Linked DNA regions of Homo sapiens. The protein of the gene in region 2 purifies or fractionates together with the protein of the main gene of each other region. This does not show direct contact. Each region holds a gene or a part of one and is shown on either strand. Other genes may lie near its edges. The genes, in order: SEPTIN8 and PTGES3L-AARSD1.

Region 1 (3,818 bases), on a different chromosome or scaffold from region 2:
GGTGGGAGGGTGAGCTGGACGGACCCTGCAGCCAGGCTCCATTCTCAAGTCAGGAAGCCCCATGGCAGACTGCTCTGTGGGGAGGAGCCTTCAGGCAGGACAACTTAACTTGGACCCCAGAGAGAGGTGGACCCAAAGCCTCTGGCTCATTCCACACACCCAGCTCCCTGAGGTGCTCACACAGGGGTGAGCGTTGTATATGTCTTCAAAGTCCCAGGATAGAGGGAGTTGGCAGCTCTGAGCTCTACATATGCAATGAGAAACTCCATGGGGCCATTATCCCCTCTCTAATCACTAACAAGCTTTTGGCTCCTGAGCCAGGCCCCAGGCTTCTGTGTCATCATTTCTTTGGCACATCAAAGACAACAACCAAAACAATAACTTCTCAGGCCGGCTGCGTGCCTCCATGCCCGGCCGTCCAAGACAAAGTAGAGAACAGCATTTTGTTACGCAGCCCAGTGGATAACTAGGACGCCCTTTTCCTGATAGGAAATGCTCTGTCTGAGCCTCCTAGAGCAGCCCTCATCACCAGCCAAGAGGAGCTGTCCCTTTTACCATGAAACAAGGTGGGATCTGGGAAGAAACTGCATCTCATGGTTGCCAACACACAAAAACAGGTTTTTATCCAGAAGGAACTGGAAATCTACTGAATCTCTAAACCAACAGAGCCGGGGAAGCTGTGGGTAAATAAAGACCCCTGTGATCCAAACCCCCAAACTAGGCTGGTTGTTGCAGTGGGAGTAGAAAGGATACCCCACCATAGGTGGATTGGCTACCGAGTAATGGACAAAGAGCAGCCCCCAGACCTCAGGCCTTCCAGAGTTCTCCAGTGCCTTGGACTTTGGATGCTTTTCTTCCTCTGGGCTCCCATGCCTAGCACCCACTCACCTGTACACCCAGTCAGGCAGACAGGAAGCCCACTCCCCAGGGGAGCTCCAGCCCTGGGGGTGGCCCTATTAAGTAACTGAGCAATGGACTCAGGAGTCAATGGACCACTGGAAGCTTTCTCCACCCATGTTCCTGGCACAAACTATGCTAGCCCCGGCTCCAGCTCCTCCCAGGAGCCTGGGCCTTAAATAGCCAGAGCAGAGGCCTCTAGCCAGAACCCGTGGTCGCGGTCATAAGCACAACTGTCCTTGAGCCTGAGAGGAATCCTAGGAATTTTCCCAGGAAAGGCTTCGGCTCTGGTCCCAGGATTCCACAGCAAGCCTCTAAGCCCAGGTCAGAGGTTACGGGAAATAACCAAGGAGACATACGTGGGAGGGTGGGGGTGGGATGCTGCTACCCGGGGCCAGGAAGGAAGAATAGAGGCAGGATATACCTGTCCCAAATCAAGAGGACACCTGGGAGCCAAAGCATCTTTCTCCTACAGTGGCAACAGAAAACTTGAGAGAAGATTCAAGCAAGGATCACCCGCCATGGTCCCAACATGACGGCAGTCAAGGTAACAGGAAGCCAATCATCCTCACAAGGCCAGTCCTACTCCACCCATCCTGGGAAGAGAAGGAATTTTGGGAGCAAAACCATCCCCTGACCCCAATACTCCATTCTCTCTGTTTCTCTGTCTCACTAAGAGGCACTGTCTTTCCTTTCTGCACACAGCCAGCCAGGCTGGAGCTTATTAATTTGGGATAGTGTGTTTCAAGCTTTTCCCATCAAAATCAGATTTCCAGGAAGCTAAGAGCACAGTTACTGGTAGCTGGGCCAGTACTCGCCACCCCAACCCCCAGGCCTAGGACAGACACATTCTTGGCCTTTATTGTGCTGCCTGAGAGGGAGTGGTCTATCCCACCACAGAGGAGATGGGGAAGGTGCTCTGGGCTGCAGAATGTACTAGAACTCCAGGCATTCATATTTTCTTACTTAGCTCAGGGACTCCAGTGGCAGCCACCACTGCCTTGTAACAGGGAAAGCCACGAGTGGTCTGGGTATCACTGGCAGGAGAAGGCAGCCTCTGTTTCACAGCAAATGAAACCCTTGGAGGGAGAATGTGGGCAGCAAAGGTGCCCCGCCTTCTGTCCAACCCCACGATGGATGCCAGTGCTGGAAAGGGACGGAGGAATGCATGGGCACCAATACGGGTTGGCAGAGGTATGGGGGTGGCACTGCTATACTTCTCTGCTGCTTGTCCATTCACTCCAACACCAGGCAGAATGTCAGGTTTGTACCCAGGCCCAAGAGCCATGTCTGGCAAGTGGGCTTGGGTCCATACCCACAGCCCCTCCTGAACCCCAAGCATCAGGCAGCCCAAGCCCTGGAGCCCCCTCAGAAAACAGCCAGCCACCTGCCAGCAGACATGGGCCCCTGTACCTTCCTCTGCTGGTTCTGTCCCTCTAATCTGACCTCTAGGATAGGGAACACCTGAAAGCCGTGTATCCTGAGGAGAATATCTAATTTGCCCCAAGAACATGTAGGGCAACTGCACGCAGAGCCAAGATGCCCCCTGCCCCGTCCTCCGCTGCCTCTTCCCAGCCAGTTCTTTCAGGAGCTCTGAAGGTTCAGATGGCTCCAAAAGAAGCCAACAGAGTGCCCCAGCTCTACCACAAGGGCATGGAGACCTTGGGAGGGCGTCTCCTCCCCAGGCAGATGTGTCTCCCTCCTGCATGCATAGCTCTGCATCTGGTTATCTGGCAAAGCTTTTGCCTTGGGGGCCATGCCTGGGGATCCTGAAACCCAAGCTGGCAGCACAGAGGCAGGAAGGCTGGGGAGGCTGCAAGGGACACACAGAGGCCAGCTGGCCCTCAGGCCCTTTGCTCTACCATCCTGCAGCTGCTCGCCTCTGGTAGCTGGACTTGAGCCACAGAGACATTCGTGGTAGTTACTGCCCCAAATATAATATATGCTTCCACCTAGCCCATCCGAGGGCTCAAAACGCCAAGGTATCCACCCTCTCTGTCATCTCTGGTATTGGAATTTGGATCTTGTTCCCCCTACCTTTGCTAGCCAATGACCAAAGTCTGCATCCTCACCCAACCTTGGGCTGTTGGCATCAACAAGATAATGCGCTCAAAGCACCCACTGCCCTCCTTGCCATCCAAGGTTTTTGACACAAGTCAGACCCTGGGTTCCCAGGCTCCATCCAGTCTCCCTCCTCCTTGGCCCTGAGCTTGGTCTCCTCCTTGCCATCCTCTCTGTTCCTATCATGGTCAGTCTTTTAGCATGTGCTCCCTGGAATGACCAATGCTTTCCATCAGCCCCGCAGCTCTGACCCACTGCAATCAAGACCCCAAGGAGACCTTCCTAAGGTGGGCACACATAGCATGGTCTGATGCCCAAGAGAGAGGGAGGGCAGGCAGACTCACCTCCTGGGGGAGAGGGCAGAGCTGCAGCTCTGCAGGTGGTGCTCACATGTGCCCTGGGAGCTGCACGGGCATCTCTTGCTCAGCTCCCGTTTTTCTTCGGCATGGCTCAGCAAGGAGGCTACTGGCCGTTTTTACAAGATGGGGAGATATCACTCTGACAGAGACCTTGAGCCTCATTTGGGTGCGGGCTCTCAATTCCTGCTTCAGGAGGGACTAGGTACTCCCTGAAGAGCCCGCTTCTTGGGGAAGTATCAAGATTGCAGGGGTGACAACGGAAGTGACAGATGGTGCTGGGGATAAAGCAGAGATGGGGGTAAGTGACTGGCTGGGAAGAACGCCAGTGTGAGGCTGTGTGCTGCACGTTTCTTCCTCTCCCCCTCAGCTTCACTTTCCCCAAGCCCTAAAGGGTTGCTCACCACGGGGTCTGAACCTGTGAGATTCTGGCAGGAGAAAACACCGGAGCTGGCCCTCGGGGAAGAAAGGGCTGAGCCCCAGAGTCAAGGTTCCAGTTAGGAG
Region 2 (3,818 bases):
GAAAAAGGGCACAATGCAAGATGCGGATGGTATGATTCCAGTTGTGTACACACACAGACACACACAACACATCTGCTAATTAAGTTTTAACATACTGCATGTAAGTAATATATACTATATGTTTATGTTCCATGTTATATATTGTTTTGTATGTTATATAATTATACCTTAGAACTACATAGTATAAAATAAATTATAGGTATTATAGTATTTATAATGCAGTATGGGGCCAGGGATGGTGGCTCAGGCCTGTAATCCCAGCACTTTGGGAGGCCGAGGAAGGAGGCTTAAGGCCAGGAGTTTGAGAGCAGCCTGGGCAACAAGCAAATCTTTACAAAAAAATAGTTTGTCCTAAAGACAAGGTCTTTACATATATATAAAATATATATTATATAATATATAATATAATATATAAAATATATATTATATAATATATAATATAATATATAAAATATATATTATATAATATATAATATAATATATAAAATATATATTATATAATATATAATATAATATATAAAATATATATTATATAATATATAATATAATATATAAAATATATATTATATAATATATAATATAATATATAAAATATATATTATATAATATATAATATAATATATAAAATATATATTATATAATATATAATATAATATATAATATATAAATATATATGTATTTATATATGTAGATATATAATATATAAAATATATATAATATGTATCATATATAATTTATATATTATATATTTTAAATATATAATTTATATATAATATATAAAATTAATATATATAATATATATTTTATATATAAAATTAATATATAATATATATATATTTTATAGAGCGAGACGGAGTTTCGCTCTTGTTGCCCTGGCTGGAGTGCAATGGTGTGATCTCGGCTCACAGCAACCTCCACCTCCTGGATTCAAGCCATTCTCCTGCCTCAGCCTCTGAAGCAGCTGGGATTACAGGCATGAGCCACCACGCCTGACTAATTTTGTATTTTTAGTGGAGACAGGGTTTCTCCATGTTGGTCAGGCTGGTCTCGAACTCCTGACCTCAGGTGATCCACCCACCTCAGCCTCCCAAAGTGTTGGGATTACAAGCATAAGCCACCGCACCTAGCCTACAAAAATATTTTTTAACTTAGTCAGCTGTAGTGTAGTCCTAGCTACCCAGGAGGCTGAGGCAGGAGGATTACTTGAGCCCAGGAAGTCAGGGCTCCATGAATAATGAATGTACCACTGTATTCCAGCCTGGGCAACAAAGCAAGACTCTATCTCAAACATAAATAAATAAATAAAGTTTACTTTTAAAGTAAATCCTAATAGTTTACCATGAGTTCAAGAGCAAAGTCTATAGGCAATGCATTTATTTTGTTTAAGTTACAGTCAACTGTACATATTAGGCACTCAAAAAAGTTTATGGACAAATAGAATAGCTGTTGGACAAATAAACATAGACATTAACTAGAGTAACAATCAGTTTTAAAAGTATAAAGAGGGCCGGGTGTGGTGGCTCATACATGTAATCCTAGCACTTTGGGAGGCTGAGGTGGGTGGATTACTTGAGGTCAGGAGTTCGAGACCAGCCTGGCCAACATGGTGAAACCCCATCTCTGCTAAAAATACAAAAATTAGCTGGGCCTGGTGGTGCACATCTGTAGTCCCATCTACTTGGGAGGCTGAGGCAGGAGAATTGCTTGAACCCAGAAGGTGGAGGTTGCAGTGAACAGAGACTGCACCACTGCACTCCAGCCTGGGCGACAGAGCAAGACTCCATCTCGGAAAAAAAAAAAAAAAGTATAAAGAGATTTCTAGAGTGTGCAGGAAGCTGAAGTGGCTGGTTCTAGAGATGACAGAATTAGCTGTAAGAAATCAGAGCACAAATCTGGGCAAGAGGAAGCACCCCAGCTTGGTTACTAGAGGGAGAAGAGGCTTGCCACCAGGAGGAATAAGTACAAGAAGGAAACAGACAGAGAACAGTTCCTAGAGATTTATTATAATCTGTTTCTTCTTTGGCTTTTTGCTTTGCCCCATATGCACACATAGTAGAGATTTCTATAATCTGCATTCTTCTTTGGCTTTTGTTTTGCCACATACACACACATACTCAAATAATCAAGTGGCCTAAACACAGAGATTAGAAACCAATCAGTAAGAAATCAGAAGCCCTACCAGTCTACCCCTCCCCGACCCTGCATCTGATGTGGAGCCATAGTCAAGTGCCTAGGAGGAAGACAAGCTTGAAGGACGACCCTTAATAAAGAGCTTCTAGGAAAGTTCAGAGATCTCAGAAGAACTTGGTGCACAGCCAAAGCGCTGACAAAGGCCTAGGCGCTAGCTTTCTAGAACAACTGGAAAATAGCCACAGCTGCCTTCCCAGCTTTGCGTCACAGAAAGTTAATTACTTGTTGCATCATCAGCACTGTCAGAATCATCCTGGGGGCGGGGGGGAAAAAAGACAAAGCACCTGTAGACCCTGCAAAGCAGGAACATTTGTGTTAACAAATACTGCTTCCTCTCTCCTGTTCTCCAAGTTTCTTTTTGTGATTTCCTAAACCACCCAACTTAGGGGGCTAATATGAAAGGTTTTAACTTACTTTGGATGTTAAGTAAACCAACACTACTTTGTCATACATCATTAGTTTCAGGACTTTTTTTTTTTTTTTTTTTTTTTTTGAGACAGGGTCTTGCTTCATCACCCAGCTGCAGTGCAGTGGCATGATCTCAGCTCAGTGCAACCTCTGCCTCACAGTCTCAAGCGATCCTCCCACCTCAGCCACTTGAGTAGCTGGGATTATAGGCTACTGTGCCTGGCTAATTTTTGTACTTTTGGTAGAGACAGGGTTTTGCCCTGTTGCCCAGGCTGGTCTCAAACTGCTGAGCACAAGTGATCCACCTGCCTTGGCCTCTCAAAGTGCTGGGATTACAGGCGTGAGCCACCACACCCACCCTAGTTTCAGAATTTTAATTAATGCTATTGCTCCTTACAGCTGGGGTAGGTCTTCTCTAGGATGGAGAAACAGAGGGGTAGATGGAAAGCAGGAGGGTCTTGCTAGGGTTTTCTAAAGCCTGGAGAAGAATATTAGCCTTCTTGGGCCAGGCGTGGTGGCTCACGCCTGTAATCCCAATACTTTGGGAGGCCGAGGCGGGTGGATCACCTCAGGCCAGGAGTTCGAGACCAGCCTGGCTAACATGGCAAAACCCTGTCTCTACTAAAAATACAAAAATTAGCTGGGCGTGGTGGCAGGCACCTATATTCCCAGCTACTCAGGAGTCTGAGGCAGGAGAATCTCTTGAACCCAGGAGGCAGAGGTTGCAGTGAGCCAAGATCGGGCCACTGCACTCCAACCTGGGCGAAAGAGTGAAACTCCTCCCCCACCCCCCAAAAAAAGAATATTAGCCCTCTTGGGTCAAACTCAAATTTGGTTAACAGGCACTGAGAACTACTGTGTGCTAGGAACTGGGATAGGAGCTCTCTAGTGGGTTGTTTTTAAGGGCTACAAAGAAACTGAAGGGTTGAGGGGAAGGCTTTACTTACATCCAAATCATCCATGGCAGGTGGAGGTCTCTTGGTGCTGACCTTCTTCAAAAGCTAGTGGGAAGAAAAAATAATCACAAGGGAGAAGGGAGTGAAGGAAGAACAATCTGCACATTGATGGTCCATAGAAGAATGGTTGCAGCCAGAACTGGTCAGGCAACTGCTCCCATCTTTAAAACATCACTGGAATTAATTTGAGAAAAGTAAATTGATCCCCTTCTTAAAAGAAAATTTAACACAAATCCAGATTGGAGTCGGCTAGTGTTTTTATAA

What was found.
Region 1: the proteins of PTGES3L-AARSD1 (region 2) and SEPTIN8 fractionate together in Homo sapiens (co-fractionation; one large-scale study listed by BioGRID). This does not show direct contact.

The regions. Positions count from the first base shown.
Region 1 is NC_000005.10:132,770,621-132,774,438, forward strand, and holds part of SEPTIN8 (septin-8), read right to left. Parts: intron 1-3,818. UniProt on the Homo sapiens protein: Filament-forming cytoskeletal GTPase. May play a role in platelet secretion. Seems to participate in the process of SNARE complex formation in synaptic vesicles.
Region 2 is NC_000017.11:42,966,744-42,970,561, forward strand, and holds part of PTGES3L-AARSD1 (PTGES3L-AARSD1 protein), read right to left. Parts: intron 3,600-3,818; coding exon 3,546-3,599; intron 2,444-3,545; coding exon of another isoform or gene 2,405-2,443; exon of another isoform or gene 1,360-2,404; intron 1-1,359. Other genes in the region: putative protein PTGES3L, read right to left, coding at 2,405-2,443, 3,546-3,599. UniProt on the Homo sapiens protein: Functions in trans to edit the amino acid moiety from incorrectly charged tRNA(Ala).